Homo sapiens: one gene and its partners. The protein of the gene in region 1 interacts with the protein of each later gene in a pairwise test. Each region holds a gene or a part of one and is shown in the gene's direction. Other genes may lie near its edges. The genes, in order: SP4, POU2F1, AP1M1 and POGZ.

Region 1 (4,987 bases):
CTCCCAAAGTGCGGGGATTACAGGTGTGAGCCACTGCACCTGGCTGATAAATCTTTTCAGAAAGTGACATAAATTTAGATTTAAGTGCTGATTTTAAAAAATTGCTAAGGCCATGCATGGTGGTGCATGCCTGTAATCTCAGCTACTTGGGAGACCAAGGCAGGAGAATTGCTTGAGCCCTGGAGTTCAAGACTGGTCTGAACAGCAGAGTGAGACCCCCATCTCTTAAAAAAAAAGAAAAAAAAAAGCAACCAAACAAAAAGGAGCTAACAGAGAAGAAGGGGTTTCTGAAATGTAGGAAGTTAGCTCACAGAGTCAAAATTGAATAAGGATGGAGTGGCGAGTGGTGTCAAATGCAGCAGAGCAGTCCTGTAATGGTCACTGAAAAAATGCACAATAGATTTGGTCATTAGAAGGAAGACTGTGAACCAGGAGCTGAGTAAGTCCTTGTGGTAGAGTGCTTTGAATGCCAGACTTTGGTCGGTGGAAGAATGATTAAATGTTATTGAGCACGAAAGTGAGATGATCAGAACACTACTTTTTTATTTTTCTGGCAGCAGTGTGAAGGATGAGAAAGGAGGGAAAGCTCAATTTAGGTTGGTAGAGGCACAGATTGAACAAGGGCTTGGATCAAGATGATAATCTTGCTTGGAAACAGGTTAGCGTAAGAGCTGTTAGGCAGTAGTGTCTTCAAAATTTGGTCATCACTGGATGTAATGAGTAAAGAAGTAGCCTAAAAGATGACATTTTAAGGTTTTCAGTGTGGATAACAAGGAGAATAGGGGTAGCATTTACTGAAACAGGGACATTAGCAGAAGCAAGACTGGAAGATGAAATCATTTTTTATTTTTAAACTTTGATTTATTAAGCATATGCTATTGAGTGGCACTGTTATTGAGTTATTAGGCACTGTTACGGTACTAGAGATACAGCAGTGAACATAATAGGCAAGATCCCTACTTTCATGGCACTTTACCTTCAGAAGTGAGGTGAAGACCAAATTATAAAAGGACAAAGTAATTTAAGACAAATAAGACAAAACTAGGTGATGATACAGTGATATATTGAGGGGAGCTTTTAGATGGGATGGTCAGGAATGGCATTTCTAAAGAGGAGAGATTTGAACTCAGACCAGAATATTACAAAGGAATCAACTATGCAAAGATCTGGGTGCAAAGGCATCCCCACTTAGACTGGAGAGTATATGCAAAGTCCCTAAGAAGGAAATGAGCTTGATTTATTTGAGGGCCAGAAGAGAGGCCAGTATATCAGGTGCAGAGTGAGCAAGGGAGAGACTAATAGAGATGAGCTCTGAGAAGTCAATAGAATTAAACTTAAGTGGGGCCTCGGAGGTCTTGCTCTGGAGTTTGGTGGCTTACTGATGGCAGTGGAAATAAAGCAGTATGTTGAACTTAGCTGTCTGTGAAACATCTAGATGAAGTCAATTAACGGGCTTCAATATACAAACTCAAATATAATTTGCCTCTGTTATTCATTGAAATAACTTTCCAAGTTGTTTAGGCATTGAACAAAGAAATGCTCACAATATGGAGGCTTGAGGAGTGTGTCAAGGACATGGTCAGGGGACCAGAGGGATCAGGAATCTCTAGCAGTTCTTCCCCACCCCTCACCCCCAGACTTAGCTTTGACTTGAAACTCATCTAGCAGTTCTTTACCAAAATAAAGGTCATCTTAAATATTATTGCGACCTTTAAAGTAATGACTGTTATATAAATGTTATGAGAAAAGTAGTCAGAGAATCACGGCCAAAAATACCTGTGTCTTCAGGGGATGTAAAGGGTACTTACCAACTTAAAATACCTGCAGCTCCATAGGGACCATGCTGTAGATTTTGTATAGTGCTTGTTCAGACAGTACTCTCATTTCTAGAAATGCATTTTTTGCAGTAAACAAAGTGTGTGTATCACTGTGCTTCTTGGTACACAAGTAGTTTGAATAGATTTTGTAGCCAAGGTCATCCTTAAGCCATCTAGTTTTACTGAATACATGTTCAAAAACACTGAAACAAAATAATTATACCTTTTGTTTATGTATTGCTTTATAATTTATATAGCCTTTACCCCTGGAAAATCAACTTGATCCTCAGGAACAGCTCTTTAAAGTAGATAGGGAGCAGAAATTTTATGGAAGTCAGTGTTACTATTTTAGAGTTGAGGAAACTGAGGATCTCTGAGTGCACAGTCATAAATTTACAACTCTCACTTCACTTGCATTGCTTTACTTACCACACCATGCTAATTCAAAGGTGTACAAAAATGTAAATTTTAGTAGAGGGTTTGTATCCTTACTAAAACAGTGACAAAATAAATTTTTTAATGTGCATGTTAGTTATGGGTGCTACCAGAAGGATTAACGGTGCTGTGGATACGCAGAGGAGAGTGAGATTGACTTTGGCTGGGAGAGTCAGAGGTTTAATTTTGTTTAGAAAATGTGTACTGTTTTCTTACTTGGTACTTTTTATTGCCTCTTCTTGGTTGCCCCATACATTTAAGGTACTACATGTGCAGCTTTGAAATAACCTCCCCCACCCTTTTTTTGTTTTTTGTTTTTTGTTTTTTTTTTTGAGACAGAGTCTCACTCTTGACGCCCAGGCTGGAGTGCAGTGGCACAATTTCGGCTCACTGAAACCTCTGCCTCCCGGGTTCAAGCGATTCTGCTGCCTCAGCTTCCCAAGTAGCTGGGACTACAGGTGTGTGCTACCACACCTGGCTAATTTTTTGTATTTTTAATAGAGATGGGGTTTCACCGTGTTAGCTAGGATGGTCTCCATCTCCTGACCTCGTGTTCCACCTGCCTCAGCCTCCAAAAGTGCTGGGATTACAGGCCTGAGCCACCACGCCTGGCCTGAAAGAAACCCTTTTATTTTGTATGCAGGACCGGTATGTTTGTTTCTGCTAGCATATTTTATTGTTATTTTGAGACAGAGTCTCGCTCTGTCGCCCAGGCTGCACAGTCTCAGCTCACTGCAAGCTCTGCCTCCCAGGTTCATGCCATTCTCCTTCCTAAGCCTCCTGAGTAGCGAGTAGCTGGGACTACAGGCGCCCGCCACCACGCCCGGCTAATTTTTTGTATTTTTAGTAGAGGCTGGGTTTCACCATGTTAGCCAGGATGGTCTCGATCTCCTGACCTTGTGATCTGACATCTCAGCCTCCCAAAGTGACATATTTTATTCTTGTATTGCCACTGAACTCAGCAGAGATGAATTGGTAACAGTAGCTACCATGTAATGAGCAATTCCGTGCCAGCACTCTGGTAGAGGATTTGTAAATTTACTTAATACTTACATCAACTTTCTGAGGTAGAAACATTCTTTCATAAATTGGTATTTTCTTTTCAGTCCATTCACATACTTGTTATTCCCACACCTGATGGAGAGAATGTAGAACTGTGTGAAAGAAAAGATAATTATAAGGCATTGTAGGCCGGGCACGGTGGCTCACACCTGTAATTCCAGCACTTTGGGAGGCCAAAGCAGGTGAATCACCTGAGGTCAGGAGTTTGAGACCAGCCTGGCAAACATGGCAAAACCCTGTCTCTACTAAAAATACAAAAAAAATTAGCTGGGCATGGTGGCACACGCCTGTCATCCCAGCTACTAGGGAGGCTGAAGAAGAAGAATTGCTTGAACCCAGGAGGTGGAGGTTGCAGTGAGCCGAGATCGTGCTACTGCACTCCAGCCTGGGCGACAGAGCAAGACTCCATCTCAAAAAAAAAAAAAAAAAAAAAAAGCATTGTATTTCAGGATAATGTTAAGCCATGCCAATAGATTTTTTTATTGTTGTTTTATTGTGCATTATTTATTATATTTTTCCCAAAGTGAAGAAGCCAAGCTGGTATATATACTAATCTGAGTGATGAAGTCTAAGCTATATAACATGAATGAATAAAGTAATAATATCTTAAATGTCTTTTTATGATTACAGTGACAGTATGTAGTAATCTTGGGTGGTTTTGCATTTCAAAAACCACTTTATGTATACACTAAAAAAAGTCGAATCAATAAAGAGATGTTTATTTAAACTATTTAGGAATGCAAGATGTCCATAAAACTTAATCCTTTGTTTAGTGACTTTTCACTCCTGTATTTTCTTGTTATGATAAGATATGTTGCTTACCGTGGAAATGGTAATAAAGCTTTGTGTTTATATAACATCTTTTAGGATCTCAAAATGCTTTTAGACTATCTCATGTATCCTCATAGTATTTTAGTGAGTAGGTAAGTGGCAAGTATTATCTTCATTTTACAGATGGAGAGAGAAATTAAGCCACAAAGTGAGTTAAATGATGTATGTATATAGTTCCGTTATCTAGATACATAGGCAACCTGAGCCACTAAAGTAAGAATACTATATTTTAGAAGGATTGACATAGTATAAGCCATTAACCCCTTAGTTTTTGTACTTTACACAGATTGTTAGAAAAAATTTATTATGCACATAGATTTTTTTTTTTAATCCTTTCTTTAGGTGTAGAAAACATTACAATACTTCTTTTTTTTCTTCCTTTTTAGGTCAGCAGCAAGGACAAGATGGAGTAAAAGTCCAGCAAGCTACTATAGCTCCTGTAACTGTAGCAGTTGGAGGAATTGCTAATGCCACGATAGGTGCTGTTAGTCCTGACCAACTCACACAAGTGCATTTGCAGCAAGGCCAGCAGACTTCTGATCAAGAGGTACAACCTGGCAAGAGGCTTCGAAGAGTTGCCTGTTCCTGTCCTAATTGTAGGGAAGGAGAAGGAAGGTAAATGCTGTATTTTTCAACTGTGTCTATTTGGAAGGCATAAAACAGCAGTTAAAACCAAGTAATTGGCTGGGAATGATGGTCACTAGAACTTCATTACCTTTGTAGCCTAGAAGTTGATATATAATATTAGAAAGGGAATTAAGTTGGGCTATTTTAGGAATGAAATTTGAGCGGTCCTCCGCCTTGTTCCTTACACTTTTAAAAAATATTTTTTCTTTCTTCCC
Region 2 (4,987 bases), on another chromosome or scaffold:
GGGTTGAGAAGGGACTGAGCTTGTTCATAAAGTTTTAACTCCGTAAGACAAACTTCTTTGTCTTCTCAGTTCTAGCTCGGTGACACATAGTAGACTTTATTTAGTGATGACAACCCCTTGTGATGAATGTCAACAGTATTAAACTAGAACTTCCCCTGATTACTTATAGGTCCAACTCGCTGGAACAAGTTTACAGGCTGCTGCTCAGTCTTTAAATGTACAGGTAAGCTGGGACCTGGGATTATGGGTCAATCTTTTATTTATTTTTTCTTATATTTTTCTGTAGTGAGCATATATTTTATAATAGGAAATGCTTAGAAGTATTACCTTTTCAAAATTAGTGAATCTCGTGAAGATTCAAATAATGATAATTATTACCATTAATGAAAATCAGTTTTATATTATGCTACTGTGCATGAACCAAAAATGGACAGGAAAAGTCTACTTTCAAAGTTGTATGTGTAAGTTCAGTAAAAATGTTTCTAAGTTATACTGCTATAACACATACCTAAACACACAGCCTGAAAGTTCTCTTAAATGCCAGTTTGTTTCCAAAAGACTTGTTATTTATCATTTTTGATGTCTTAGGGAGACCTTATAGGGAAGAGGAAAGAACACTGGACTGAGACACAAGGGTCTTAGGTTTGCATTCTCATTCTGCCACTGACTAGCTGTGTGACCTTTGGCAAGTCACATAACCTCCTTGGGTTCAGTTTTTCTCATCTGTACTTAAGTGGGGACATTTATAAGATTGCCAGGGTTCCTCTCCATCCTAAAATGTTAGGCTTCTAATAATTGTAATTAAACCTGTTTGTAGATGTTGGTGGATAGACAATCAAAATCTTAAAACTTAAATCTGGCCACTTTCCTTCTTTGAACCATATGGCACAACATGCAAAGTTCAAGTGTTAGACATTGCCCTCTTAATATTTCTATCAACCTGCTGGTTCCTTTCATTATAGTGTTTAGGTAACTAGCAGTCAAGAGGGAAAGACAGTATTATGGAAGATTGATTTCAGTGTTGCTAATGACTAAAGACCTTGGGTTGAGCATTTCATGAAACCCAGTTGAATATGGACCTAGTAACACGTAGGAACAAGGAGAGAAAAGAAAAAGAGATAATGTGACCTTACTTTCTGAGGGAGAGGAGGCGGAAAATTGCCTTGGTTGCCATGGTAAACTTTCATCCCTTAGAGAGATGTTGGCAAACAGGCTGTATCTCCAGTGCAGAATGTTTACAGTCCTGCACTGTAATTATCTCTCAATGACTGGCAGAATTAATCAGAGCATTTATGTTAATTAGCCTTGCTGCAGTCCCCAAAACAGGTGGTGAGAAATATGCAAATCTATGCAGAATTTTAATGCTTTGCATAACCAGTTTTAATTACCGTAAAATTTTCTCTTCGTGCCCCTCTCTCTTGACTGCAGCATTTTCTCTCTGAGCTTGTGTGTTAGTTGATGGGAGTTGCTAGATTTACCGTTCTGTAAAATATTAGGTGGAAAGTTCTGTGGATCAAGTGATCATTCTCTGAGATGGTATATGGAGAAGTTTCAGACTGACCACCAGGTGTATGTTAAAATATTGGTTTGGAAGGTCTAATGTAGAGGTGAATTGAAAATATATTCTTCCCTTTACCCCCTATTTCTAGAGTTGAGGAATTGGGGGCTATGAAAAAAATCTATAAATTTGTGGGGGATGACTTTATTTTTAAAAATTGTAATAGCAGCTTTGCTGGCATTAGAATTAACAAGTTTAAAAACTTGGTATGTGAAACTAGGAAAATACAAATAAAAGAAAGGAGGTAAACCAGAACTCATGACTGAATAAGCTCATGTTTTAAATGATTCCTAAAAGATGGGGTTTTAAGTACATTTCTTTTAATCAACCATTTGCAATCTTTTATTTCCTACCCACCCCACCTCAGTCTAAATCTAATGAAGAATCGGGGGATTCGCAGCAGCCAAGCCAGCCTTCCCAGCAGCCTTCAGTGCAGGCAGCCATTCCCCAGACCCAGCTTATGCTAGCTGGAGGACAGATAACTGGGGTAAGTGTTCACTGAGAGAATTATAACAAACTTTTTCTGTGTCAGAACTGCCATTGGCCAATAGCTGATTAGAATTGTTCACCATAGCTGGTAGTAACATGGCTATGCCTGGCACTATTGTGTCTTTAAGGAACTTCCTACACTGTAGGTAGTAAGTTGCTCTGAAAAAGGAATTATCTTTGTCGTAAGTTTTCAGGATATCTTTTATTAGAATTGTGGATGCTCTGGATAAATTAAAAACCTTATTAAACCCCTGTTTCAGGTGTTGCTTCATCATGCAATGGAGTAATTATCATATGGTTGAGATCATTACACTGAAAATGGCAGTTATCCATTTGGCATTAAGACATCACTGCAGGGTAGAAGTTAAAGAATGGATTAGTACCTGCAAAAGAAAAACATTTTTCTTTAAGTTACTGTGTAATGATCTAAAATAAAGCATGTGGCTTCATATCCTAGCTCTGCAACTTACCGTATGGCCTAATTACTTCATTTCCCTCTACCTGTTTTCCTTCTGTTAAATGGAGATACTAATAATACCTATCTCACATTACTGTTGTAAAGATTGGAGATAATACATGTAAAACTTATAGAACGGTGCTTGGCATGTAGCATTCAACAAATATTGTTTATTTTTGTACTTGATCTTAGCCAAAAGGCTGAGACGTTCTGTCATTTATTTTTTATGGTTAATAAATTGGCCTGTTTGGCTATATTAAGCTTTTAAGTTTTCAGCTGTCTTTTCTCTAAGGCACCATTCAAAATATTTTTCCAATGTTGAAAATTTGTGTATTAAATTATCTTTGTGGGGGTTGGTTTAGGGCAATGGTAAGGAATAGTTTTTATTCAATTCACATCACATTAACTCCCAAGAATTTCCTAGGGTTTTTTGTTTTCTTTCTTTCTTTCTTTCTTTTTTTCCCAGTTAAGTGTGTTTTGTCAGTGGACAACTGTTTTAAGAACTGTTGCAAAATTGTTCACAAAATCCCATGAGTAGAGATGTATGTATATATATATTATGTAAAAATTAAAAATATATCTATACTTTATATACACACATATCCCTTGAAGGGTATTGAGTTTTTGAATGGTTTGGTTTTGAGCCTTATGTTTCTAATGCACAAATTGTGTTTGATTCTTTTAGAGGAGGTTGTGGCACTAAGTGACTGTACATATACTTCAGAAAATTATGGTTCCATCTTGTTTGATCAATCAGAACTTGTCACCAAAAGAAAAGTAGAACACATTTACTACTTTAAGTGTGTTTGAAATAAGTTGCATTATGAAAACAACTTTAAATATGCTCTAAATACATTTCCTACTTTACTATTTGGGTCTTGTTTTTGGTGACTAGTGTCTACAATAGTAAGAGGGAGTTGGGATTCTAGGTTCCTTTGGCTGGAGCTTCTGTTAAACCTGGGCATTAGGGTTCATTTGCATGTAAAGAGAACGGCTATCACCACCTGTTTCATAGAGATAATGTGTTGGAAAGGAGATGTAAAGTTGCAGAGACTCAGTGCTTTCAATAACAGAAAAGATTGTGTTAGGGAGGGGCCTGTAGGGAGACTTGGAAAAGAAACAAATGGAGCTCATATTCTTTAGTCATATCTTTGGACTTAATGGAAATGATGGAATATGGCAGGGATTCATGCTAATGGGAAGCAGCTGGGCCTTATCAGTTCTTTCCTTGGTTATATCCAGCATCCTTGTTCCTCATTCATCTGACTAATCACTTGCTGTTTGGTTGTGTGTAAATGTATTTTCATATCTTGTCAGTGGTGATTCTTTTTTTTTTTTCTTGCTTACTAGTTAATTACTTTTTTGCCCAAACCCTAGGGCCCTGGACAAGCTTGAATGATTAAGTCCATAGTGGGGACCACCATTTTAATTTAAATGTTCTGCTAGTAATGGTAGTTTGATCACTGATGAACATTTTAGCTGTCTGCTAAGCAAGTGAAGTTGGGTAGCTGGGGACTGATATCATTTGAGTTACCTATTTTAAAGCAGTTGGCTTGCATTAGGAGACTTTCTCCTTCAACACTTTCCCATAATGTGTTCTGGTTTTGTTTAGCTTACTTTGACGCCTGCCCAGCAACAGTTACTACTCCAGCAGGCACAGGCACAGGCACAGCTGCTGGCTGCTGCAGTGCAGCAGCACTCCGCCAGCCAGCAGCACAGTGCTGCTGGAGCCACCATCTCCGCCTCTGCTGCCACGCCCATGACGCAGATCCCCCTGTCTCAGCCCATACAGATCGCACAGGTGAGTGAGGAACTCCAATAGCTGGGGCAGCAAGTGAGGAATAAAGTGGCAGGTTTTATTTAATGTTAGATTAACTTTTTGATTGTTAGTGTGGGGCCTTAACTGCCTGAGGAGCTCTAGATCAGTGAGGTAAGCGGTACCCTTCCTTACCACTGAATTAGAAATAATGTTTGTTTGCTTATTGTAGTTGATATTGTAAACATATAGCTGATTATTTGAATAACTGACTTTATATTAAGTGACAATTCTTGAATAATTAGCTGGCATATTTTTGAAGCAGGGGATTACTGTATTTATTTTAATTAGCTAATTACAGCAGACATGGATTTTTTTTCATGTGCTCTGCGGTGAATGTTGCCACCCATGTGTGAGACAGTGAGTCATCTCTGCTATGGAGTGATTAACATTATTGCATTAGAATGTTGTTTGGTTTCAATTTTCACATTTTAGGGCAAAGTATCTAGAGATAATAAAAATTTATTTAAGAAGCGCCAGGCGCGGTGGCTCACGCCTGTAATCCCAGCACTTTGGGAGGCCGAGGCGGGCGGATCACTAGGTCAGGAGTTCGAGACCATACTGGCTAACACGGTGAAACCCCATCTCTACTAAAAATACAAAAAATTAGCCAGGTGTGGTGGCAGGTGCCTGTAATCCCAGCTACGCGGGAGGTTGAGGCAGGAGA
Region 3 (4,987 bases), on another chromosome or scaffold:
CGATTCTCCAGCCTCAGCCTCCCATGTAGTTGAGATTACAGGCATGTACCACCACACCTGGGTAATTTTTGTATTTTTGGTAGAGACAGGATTTCACCTTGTTGGCTGGGCTGGTCACAAATTCCTGACCTCAAGTGATCTGCTCACCCCGGCCTCCCAAAATGCTGGGATTACAGGCATGAGCCACTGCGCCCAGCCCTAAAAAGGTTTTTTTAAAAGCCATTCTTGTAGAGGAGGTCTACTGGCTACACATTCCCTTGGCTTTCCTTTAAGAATGTCTCTATATTTTACCTTTATCCCTAAAGGCTATTTTCACTGGATATGGACTTCTGAATTGACGGTTTTTGTTTAGCACTTTAATATGTTATACCACTTCCTTCTGGCATCCATCATTTCTGGTGAGAAATCCACAGTCCCCCAAATCTTTATTCCCCTATAGGTGATGTATTATTGTCCTCTGGCTGCTTTCCAGATTTTTCTTTGCCTTTAGTTTCAGCAGTTAGATGAGGTGTGCACATCTTTGTGTTTCTACTGTTTGGGATTTGTTCAGCTTCTTGGATCTGTAAGTTTATGTCTTTCATCAAATTGGGAAGTTATCAATCATTGTTTCCTAAAATATGGTTTTTTGTTTTTTTGTTTTGTTTTGTTTTTTGAGACAGAGTTTCATTCTTGTTGCCCAGTCTGGAGTGCAATGGCACAATCTTGGCTCACTGCAACCTCTGCCTCCCAGGTTCAAGCTGTTATAAGTAAAATGTTTATTCAGAAACAGAATGCTTGTTCCTCGGTACCACAAGGAAAAATCAGCATTCAAACAAAAAGTTTTCTCAGCAAGGCAAATTTACTTTCTGCAGAAAGGGTGCTCCTCGCAGATGGAACAATGGCGAGAGCACACCCGAACAAAGGAGGAAAGCCGTTTTTATCCCTTATGCAGCTTGTCCCTGCTGCTGTGTCCTATCTCCATTGGCTGGAGCCAGACCTCACAATCTAAGCTAAACCTGACTGGCTAATAACTTAAAACTTTCCTAAATAGATAAAGGCAAGGGAGAACAAAGGAAAAAGAGGAAGTTGACTCATTCCCTTATATCTAACATCCCTTACATCTAAAAACAAATATCTTGGTTAAAGTACAAGGACACAGAATGTACTCATTCCCTTATATCTAACATCCTTTATGTCTAAAACAAATATTTCGGTTAAAGTACAAGGACATAGAATGTACATTATTTCTAACACTTATGATTTATTCTTTAGTGAGAAGGGAAACTTTGAAGAGGAACTTTTTTACTTTCTACAAAGCAATTCTCCTGTCTCAGCCTCCCGAGTAGCTGGGATTACAGGCATTCACCACCACACTTGGCTAATTTTGTATTTTTAGTAGAGACAGGGTTTCTCCATGTCGATCAGGCTGGTCTCAAGCTCCCAACCTCAGGTGATCCACCTGCCTCAGCCTCCCAAAGTGCTGGGATTACAGGCATGAGCCACCGCACCCAGCCCTCAGATATGTTTTTGTCATTTTACTCTTCCTTCAGGACTCCAGTGACATGAAAGACCTTTGGTTATTATATCATGTGTCCCTGAGGCTGCTTATTTTATTCTATCTTTTCTTCTCTCTGTTAGATTGGATAATTTACATTGAACTGCCTTTAAGTTCACAGGTCCTTTGGCCCTTTCCTGTTTATCTCCATTCTGTTATTATTATTATTACTATTATTATTATTATTTTTTTTTTTTTTGAGATAGGTTCCCACTCTGTCATCCAGGCTGGAGAGCCATGGAGCAAGCATGGCTCACTGTAGCCCCAACCTCCTGGGCTCAAGCGATCCTTCTGCTTCAGCCTCCTGAGTAGCTGGGACTACAGGTGTGCACCACCAAGCCTGGCTAATTTTTAAAAAAAAATTTTTGTAGAGATGAGGGTCTCTCTGTGTTGCCCTGGCTGATCTAGAACTCCTGGGGCAAGTGATCTTCCCACCTCAGCCTCCCAAAGTGCTGGGATTACAGGCATGAGCCACTGTACCTGGCCTCCATTCTGCTATTAAGTCCATTGAGCAAGTTGTTTATTTCAGTTACTATATTTTTAAAAATTTTCCATTTGATTCTTCTCTTTTTGTTTGTTTTTGTTTTTGTTTTTGTTTTGAGACAGGGTCTTACTCTGTTGCCCAGGCTGGAGTATAGTGGTGCAGTTATAGCTCACTGCAGCCTCAACCTCGTGTGTTCAAGTGATCTTCCCATCTGAGTGTGCTGAGTAGCTGAGACCACAGGCACGCACCACCATGCCTGGCTAATTTTTTTTTATTTTTTATTTTGTAGAGACCAGGACTTGCTGTGTTGCCCAGGCTAGTCTCGAACTCCTGGTTGATTCTTCTTTATCATCTGTTTCTTTGCTGAGACTTTCTATTTTAACATTTGTTGCAAGCATTTGCAATTTTAAAAATAGCTGTTTAAAGTCTTCATCAGATAATCCCAACATCTGTGAAGTGTTGACAGTGGTTGATTGGGTTTTCCAGGCAAGTTGACATTTTCGTGGTTGTTTGTATGCTGAGTAATTTTGGATTGCATCCTGGACTTTTTGAGCATTATGTGGTGATACTCTAGGTCTTATTTAAGCTATATGGGAAATATTGATATTTTTGTTTTAGCCAACAGCCAATCTTACTTTCAGGCCACAAGTTCCAATCCCCAACCTGTAGGCCATGAGCATCACGTCAGTTTTTAAAGCCCCCGTGCCATTTCCTGGTCAGATCTCCTGGGCGTGCACTGCCCAGTGGTCATTCTGGGACCCGAGTGGTTAGTTCAGTTCTCAAACTCTTTCGTAAGTCAAACTATGGTATATGCACAGGATTCACAGATGCTCGATTCTAGAGAGTTCTGGAGACATAAACCACTTCATGGGGTGACTTTCCTGAGCTTCTGGCTCTGTGCTGTCTACCTGGTACTTTTCTGATTCCTTGCGGTTTACTGTTGTACACGTCTGCCATTGGGCCCACTTCCCAGCCCACATGGAGAGAGGACAGAGAGAGAAAAGGACAACGGTTGCCCCACCCCCTCGGAACAGTAGCTGGCACCACAGGGCCTGGGGCATGAGGAACAGGGGAGATGGGGGGCTTCTGTGTTTTCCAGGAGAGTCAGGAGTTCCTCTTCTGGCCCCAGAGCCAGGCCTGGAGGCTCTGCTGAGCTCTCGTGTGCTCTGTGGTGCACACTTCTGCTTCCAGATTGCTGCTGCACTTTCTCGTGGGGGGCGGTGGGAACACTCTGCATTCGTGGCTCTTCCCTGGTCCACCTGCTGCTGTCTTCAGTCTTCCGGCAGCTGCCAAGCCTCCTGCCCAGGTTTCAGAGCTGTAGTCAGTGGCAGGGGAAGGGGCGCCAGCCGACCTGCCTCACCAGCCGCTTGCTTTCTTTTGTGTTCACGCTGGCCTCATCCCTGCGGTGTGGGTGGACTGTATGGGCTCAGCCAATCCAGTCATGCAGGTCACTCAGGTCCCGTTTCTGACGGCCACTGGCAGTGCAGCATTGAGCACGCTTGCTCAGCCCCAGACGTGTGCACTTGGGTGTCTCCGTGACCTGGGCCAGGATTTCTGGAGGACTGAGGCTGCAGACATGGAATTGCCAAGGAGAGTGCTGCCCAGAAAGACTGTCTCGCGCACTCCGTGCAGACCTCTTCGCTTTCTTACTTTCCGGGACGGGACAGTGGCCTCGCTAACCACATTCCCCTCTCCCCTGGGGACTCTTGTCTGATTGTTTATTGAGCCGAAAACAGGGTCCATCTGGGTGCTGTGGGGTGCAAAGGCAAGTCCCAGGGGGCAGCTTAGAGAGAGTCGAGCAGGAAAGCGCTAGGGCTGCGGGGGTCCCCGCCACAGTGCGCTGCTGCATGTGGCTCCGCCCGGAAGGATCCCACTCCTCCAAACAGGTCAGCACAAGGGCAGCTGTCAGGATGCCACCTTCCTAAGTGGCTTGCAGAGCTGGTGGCTGGGTCAACATTTGCCTCCAGATGCGATCATCTGAGTGCAGCCTGGTACTTACACAGCCGGGCCCTGAGCAAGCATCCCTTCAGCACCCGCCCTGGGAAGGGCACCGGCTCTGCGTGGCTGGTCACACCTCAGCTGAGAAGGTTCTGATTGCTGCCCGCAGGGCCGAGATCAGCCTCGTGGGCTGGGCAGCTTTTCAGCTCCACTCCCTGGGCCTGCTCTCGCGGCATTCACGACCTCATGTGTTCAGTTACAGCTGGCTGCCAGGGCCAGTCCCAACTCCCTGAGGGGGAGGCAGCACCCAAGGGGAATTAGGGGCCGTCACAGTGGAGTGGAGGGCCCTCCGAGAAAGAGGCAGGCAAAATCCCAATGCTCGGGCTCCTGGAGCCCCGGCCAGTGAGGGTCCCGAGCTCCTGAGCCTCCGCTTGCCCACTGAGCACCTCCTGCCACACACGCTGTTTCTGGTGCTGGACACGGCAGCGCGCAGCCCCACGTGGCTTCCCCCAGCAGGGAGAGAGAGAGAGAGACAAGCAGGCAGACGCAGGGAAGCTGTTGTGCACCATGGGATCAGGGAGCCGCTTGCGAGATGAGGACAGGACAGCACGAGGAGGTGAGGCTGGGGAAGGTGACAGAACCGGAGCCCTTGGGGCCATGTCCGGTTCCCTGCCCCTCCCAGGGCTGTCATTTGCTTGGCACCTCAGTTTTCCCAATTCCCTCAGAGGCGGCAAGCTGGTGAGGGGCTTTTGTTTGTCTACCCAGTGCTTTTTGGACATCATGCATAAGACTGCACAGACTCTCCTGCCACTCTGCAGACAGGAAATGCAGGCCCTGCACATGTTAGCCTGGCTGGAGCCAGCATCTGGGCCCAGGTATCCAAGTCGGTGGCCTTTGGCCCACTTGCTGGTGTGAGCATGGCCTCGTGCAGCATAGCAGTGTGCAGTGGTGGCCAGGGCTGCAGCCCCAGCGATTCTTCTGCCAGTCACTCTGTGCCCTCAGCACGGGGCCTCTGATCTGTGCCTGTTTCC
Region 4 (4,987 bases), on another chromosome or scaffold:
ATTTATTATTCTATTTTTATTTTTTTGAGGCGGAGTTTTGCTCTGTCGCCCAGGGTGGAGTGCAGTGGCACTATCTCGGCTCACTGCAATCTCTTCCTCCCTGGTTGTATTTTTAGTAGAGACAGTGTTTCGCCATGTTGGCCAGGCTGGTCTCGAACTCCGGACCTCAGGCGATCCACCTGCCTCGGCGTCCCAAAGTGCTGGGATTACAGGCATGAGCCACCGTGCCCGGCCTATTATTATTAAGTCTTAGCTTTTGACTACATGTCTTTTTAATTTTTAAGAATTTGTGATTAAATAAACATGGATAAAGCATTTATGCTGCCTAGGGAGGTGTGATTGTTGTCATGAAGGAAAAGCATTTGTGAGATTGGGTTGTGAATGAATGGCTTATTTCATGGAGTAGCATTTTTACTTGAAAGAACGACTAGCAGACTATGGTTTTTCACACTTAGTATTTGGCAGATATTTCTTGAAAATGAAGTGAGCTTGTCACTTTTAGGAAAACAACTGACAGTATTTATTACCAGTGATAAAATTTGGGTGAAAATTAGAATTTTTAAAAAGTTGACAGCTGGAGTTTGACAGCTTCCTAGTACTTAAAAGACTTTCCTTATGATATCAGTGGTTAAGGACTGCAATATTTTAAAATGTTGTTTAATGAAATATGTTATTTGGAAGATGGGCATAACTCAGTAAATCTAGGCTTTGCAAATGACCAATGCATGATGTTGCAAAATCAAGCAAAGGCAAAAGATCCTTTGAAAATTCCAGACATAGCAATGGATTTTAACAGTAAAAAAGTGGATTGATGTGGTTTCAGATTCCAAAATGTTAACTGTCCTTTAAGAAACTACTATTTGGCCTAGCGTGGTGGCTCACTCCTGTAATCCCAGCACTTTGGGAGGCCAAGGTGGAAGGATTGTGTGAGCCCAGGAGTTGGAGTTGAGCCTGGTCAGCATAGTGAGACCCTGTCTCTATTTATTAAAAAAAAAAAAAAAAAAAAAAAAGAAAGAAACTACCGTTTGTTGAGTTTTAGTATTTACCAAACACAGTTATCTGAAAAGGTTATTAAAATACTTCTCCCTTTTCCGACTAGATTTTCATTATATACTTAACCAAAGCTACATATAGCAACAGACTGAATGCAGAAGTAACTGTGAGAATCCAACCATCTTTTATCAAGTTAGACATAAAAGAGATTTGCAAAATGCAAAACAACGTTACTTTTCTCACTTTTTGGAGGGAAAGTATTTTTTGTTGAAATGTTATTTATGTTAACTTATAATGGGCTTGTCTTAAAATACATTGATAAATACTACATTTTAAAAATTTGTGGTAAATGTGGAAAGATAAAATTCACATAAACAAAAGATCTTTGGCGTCTTCAATAATTTTAAGAGTCAAAAAAATGAGAATCATTCAGTCAGTCCTATGTTTCTGCTCTTTACATCATTCAAATCTAACTCCCTTGGGGAACTTGGGAGAATTTATAAATAGTTGAAGTTGATGGAAGAGGCAGTGACCTGGGGAAGAATTCTAAAGCAAAAAAAGCTTGCTTTGAATCCTAACTGGGATATTTACTAACTGTAACCTTGAGGAAGTTACTTCGTCTCTCTAAACCACTGTTTTGACCTTATCTGTAAAATAAAAACTTTAGAGCTGGTTGATTACAAATCCTAGAGCTGGTTAATGCCTTTGCCATAATATCAATATGGTAACATTTTGATAGATTCTTTGGTATTCTTGTTTGTGATATTAAGCCATATTCACAAAAACTTGTCTTTTTTTTTTTTTTGAGATGGAGTCTCGCTCTATTGCCCAGGCTGGAGCGTAATGGCGCAATCTCGGCTCACTGCACCCTCCGCCTCCTGGGTTCAAGCGATTCTCCTCCTTCAGCTTCCTCAGTAGCTGGGATTACAGGCACGCGCCACCACACCTGGGTAATTTTTGTATTTTTCTAGAGATGGGGTTTCACCATATTGATCAGGCTGGTCTCAAACTCCTGACCTCTTGATCGACCCGCCTTGGCCTCCCAAAGTGCTGGGATTACAGGCGTGAGCCACCACGCCCAACTGAAAAACGTATTTTTATATGTAACCAAGGGGAGGAGAGCAGAAAAGAGACACTAACCTATTGCTAGGTGTTAGCAGAGTTAAAAGAAATTGAAAGCATAGAAATGGAATTTAGGCAACACACAGCTGTCATTGAAGAAAAGTTTTCCATCATAGTATAGATATTTTTCTTGGGAAAGGGACTCCTGAATATTGAACCCCTTTAAAGAAGAGAACTTGTTGCTTACTTGTTTTAGTAAAGAGCACAGAACTAAATATTTGGGTGTTTCTTGATACAGGATTGGCTACCAGACAAGAGGAAAGTATTTTGAGTTTGGAAATTTTAGGTTATTAAGACTACTTAAAACCCTTATGATTCTTACATATGAGGTACTATAACAGATGTTGTGAGGGACAAAATGGGCTGTGCAAAAGACTGGATAAATAAAAGCTTATTACATGTTTAACTATAGTTTTATACACAGATTAAGTATTCAGCCCTATAGGTTTTCTGGTATTAGTCCTTTTTAGAGCCAAAAATTGAGGTAACTTGAAAACATAATTACCAGTTATGTTGAGGATTATCATTGTTTATTTTTCACCCTGGAACAAGAAAGTGGTATTCTTAAAATGTTTGTTTTCTGTAAAATATTTTTCCTGTTCCAAATGTTCTTTTTATGTTGATTTTTGGGCAGGTATGTACTGGCAGTAAGTTGAAAACGTTAGATACCAAATTCTTCATTTCTGAATTCTTCATTCTTCATTTCTGGACTTTACAGCTATGAAAGAACAAGACAAAGGAATTCAGAGCTTTCAAGAACCAAGTATGTCAGGATAGTTGTGGAAAACAGATCTTTTTCTCATTTTCTTTGAGATGAAGATAGGCAACATTTGCTGCCCATTAAATACCTTAAAAGTATACAGGTGTATCTGCAGGATTCTTTTTGCTGCTTTTAAATAGTATATTGTTTTAAAAGGTCTGTTTTTATCTTGCCTTTACAATTATATAGACTTTTATTGACTAGCTGATCATATAGGGCCTTAGTATAGACTACCATATTCGCCAGCATTTAAGAAATAGTCCCCTTCCCTCCAGGAGAGTATTTATCTGGTACTCCCATATTATGGATTGAAGGATGAGACAAGAGACTGAGTATTGCTAATAGTTCTGTGTGAGCCTGCAGTGTTAAGTAAAACCTATTGAGTGCACAAAAAAATCATGTTACAATTACTACAAAATAGAGAAACCACCTAGGTTACCAAGATGTCAAATAATGGATTAATGGAAGAAAGTAATGTACCTCCTTGGTAGCCTACATAATCCACCTTAATTTGTTATTTCTTATTTAACTATTTTGCTATGTCTTAAGAAATGTATATTAAGTGAAAATGGATGCATAAAAATAAAAAAAGAGAAATGTATATATACAAGCTACATGAAAATTGGTCCTGGGAATAAATCAAGAAATTCAACCAACAAGGCTACCAGTTATTTAGTAAATACCAAAGAGATAGGTGGAATGTAGCAGTACAGAATATCACAGCTAAGATATGAGTAGGTAGTTCCACTCCCTCCTACCCCACCTCAGTTTTTATTAAGAAAATTTCACGCATGCGAAAAGGGAGAAAGAGGCTGGGCGCAGTGGCTCACACCTGTAACCGAAGCACTTTGGGAGGCCAAGATGGGCGGATCACAAGGTCAGGAGTTCAAGACCAGCCTGACCAACATGGTGAAACCTGTCTCTACTAAAAATACAAAAATTAGCTGGGCGTTGTGGCGCATGCATGTAATCCCAGCTACTCAGGAGGCTGAGGCAGGAAAATCACTTGAACCTGGGAGGTGGAGGTTGCAGTGAGCCAAGATCACTCCAGCCTGGGCAACTGAGCGAGACTCCATCACAAAAAGAAGAAAAAAGAAAAGGGTGAAAGAATTCTACAAGGAACACTTAAACTATCCACCACCTAGACAGAGTGACTTTTTTTTTTTAAGACAGAGTCTCGCTCTGTTGCCTAGACTAGAGTGCAGTGGCACAATCTTGGCTCACTGCAACCTCTGCCTCCCGAATTCAAGCGATTATCCTGCCTCAGCCTTCCGAGTAGCTGGGACTGCAGGCACCAGCCACCACGCATGGCTAATTTTTGTATTTTTAGTAGAGACGGGGTTTCACTGTGTTGGCCAGGCTGGTCTCGAACTCCTGTCCTTGTGATCCGCCTGCATTGGCCTCCCAAAGTGCTGGGATTACAGGCGTGAGCCACTGCGCCTGGTGACAGGATGATTTTTAATGTTTTGGCCCATGCCAAATATTTTTTGAAAGTTGGCATACTAGTATCTATAAGAAAATATCAAAATAGCCCACCTGTAGTGACAACTACTTGGGAGGCTGAGGCAGGAGGATCACCTGAGCCCAGGAGGTTGAGGCTGCAATAAGCCGTGATTGTGCCACTGCACTCCAGCCTGGGGGATAGAATGACACCCTGTCTCAAAAAAAAAAGCCAAATATCTATGTATTTGCTTAACCCCTTGAAAGTCACTTTCAAGATATTTCTATTAAATATTTTGTGCATTTCCTAGGAATAAATACATTCTCCTACATGAATATAATATGATTATCCTTTCTGTTTAAAAATTTTTTAGAGGGATCGGTTCTGTTTCCCAGATTGGTCTTGAACTCCTGACCTTAAGCAATCCTACCACCTTGGCCTGCCACCATGCCCGGCCAACATTGACTTTTTTTTTTTTTTTTTTTTTTTTTGAGACGGAGTCTTGCTCTTGTTGCCCAGGCTGGAGTGCAATTGCACCATCTCGGCTCACTGCAACCTCCACCTCCCGGGTTCAAGCAATTCTCCTGTCTCAGCCTCCTGAGTAGCTGGGATTACAGGTGCCCACCACCACGCCCGGCTAATTTTTGTATTTTTAGTAGAGACTGGGTTTC

Evidence for each region.
Region 2: the proteins of SP4 (region 1) and POU2F1 interact in binary tests that used the Homo sapiens proteins (3 or more experiments, as listed by UniProt).
Region 3: the proteins of SP4 (region 1) and AP1M1 interact in binary tests that used the Homo sapiens proteins (3 or more experiments, as listed by UniProt).
Region 4: the proteins of SP4 (region 1) and POGZ interact in binary tests that used the Homo sapiens proteins (3 or more experiments, as listed by UniProt).

Annotation. Positions count from the first base shown.
Region 1 is NC_000007.14:21,472,548-21,477,534, forward strand, and holds part of SP4 (transcription factor Sp4), read left to right. Parts: intron 1-4,531; coding exon 4,532-4,760; intron 4,761-4,987. UniProt on the Homo sapiens protein: Binds to GT and GC boxes promoters elements. Probable transcriptional activator.
Region 2 is NC_000001.11:167,369,992-167,374,978, forward strand, and holds part of POU2F1 (POU domain, class 2, transcription factor 1), read left to right. Parts: intron 1-169; coding exon 170-223; intron 224-1,925; coding exon 1,926-2,045; intron 2,046-4,116; coding exon 4,117-4,305; intron 4,306-4,987. UniProt on the Homo sapiens protein: Transcription factor that binds to the octamer motif (5'-ATTTGCAT-3') and activates the promoters of the genes for some small nuclear RNAs (snRNA) and of genes such as those for histone H2B and immunoglobulins.
Region 3 is NC_000019.10:16,220,493-16,225,479, forward strand, and holds part of AP1M1 (AP-1 complex subunit mu-1), read left to right. Parts: intron 1-4,987. UniProt on the Homo sapiens protein: Subunit of clathrin-associated adaptor protein complex 1 that plays a role in protein sorting in the trans-Golgi network (TGN) and endosomes.
Region 4 is NC_000001.11:151,451,918-151,456,904, reverse strand, and holds part of POGZ (pogo transposable element with ZNF domain), read left to right. Parts: intron 1-2,002; exon of another isoform or gene 2,003-2,878; intron 2,879-4,987. UniProt on the Homo sapiens protein: Plays a role in mitotic cell cycle progression and is involved in kinetochore assembly and mitotic sister chromatid cohesion.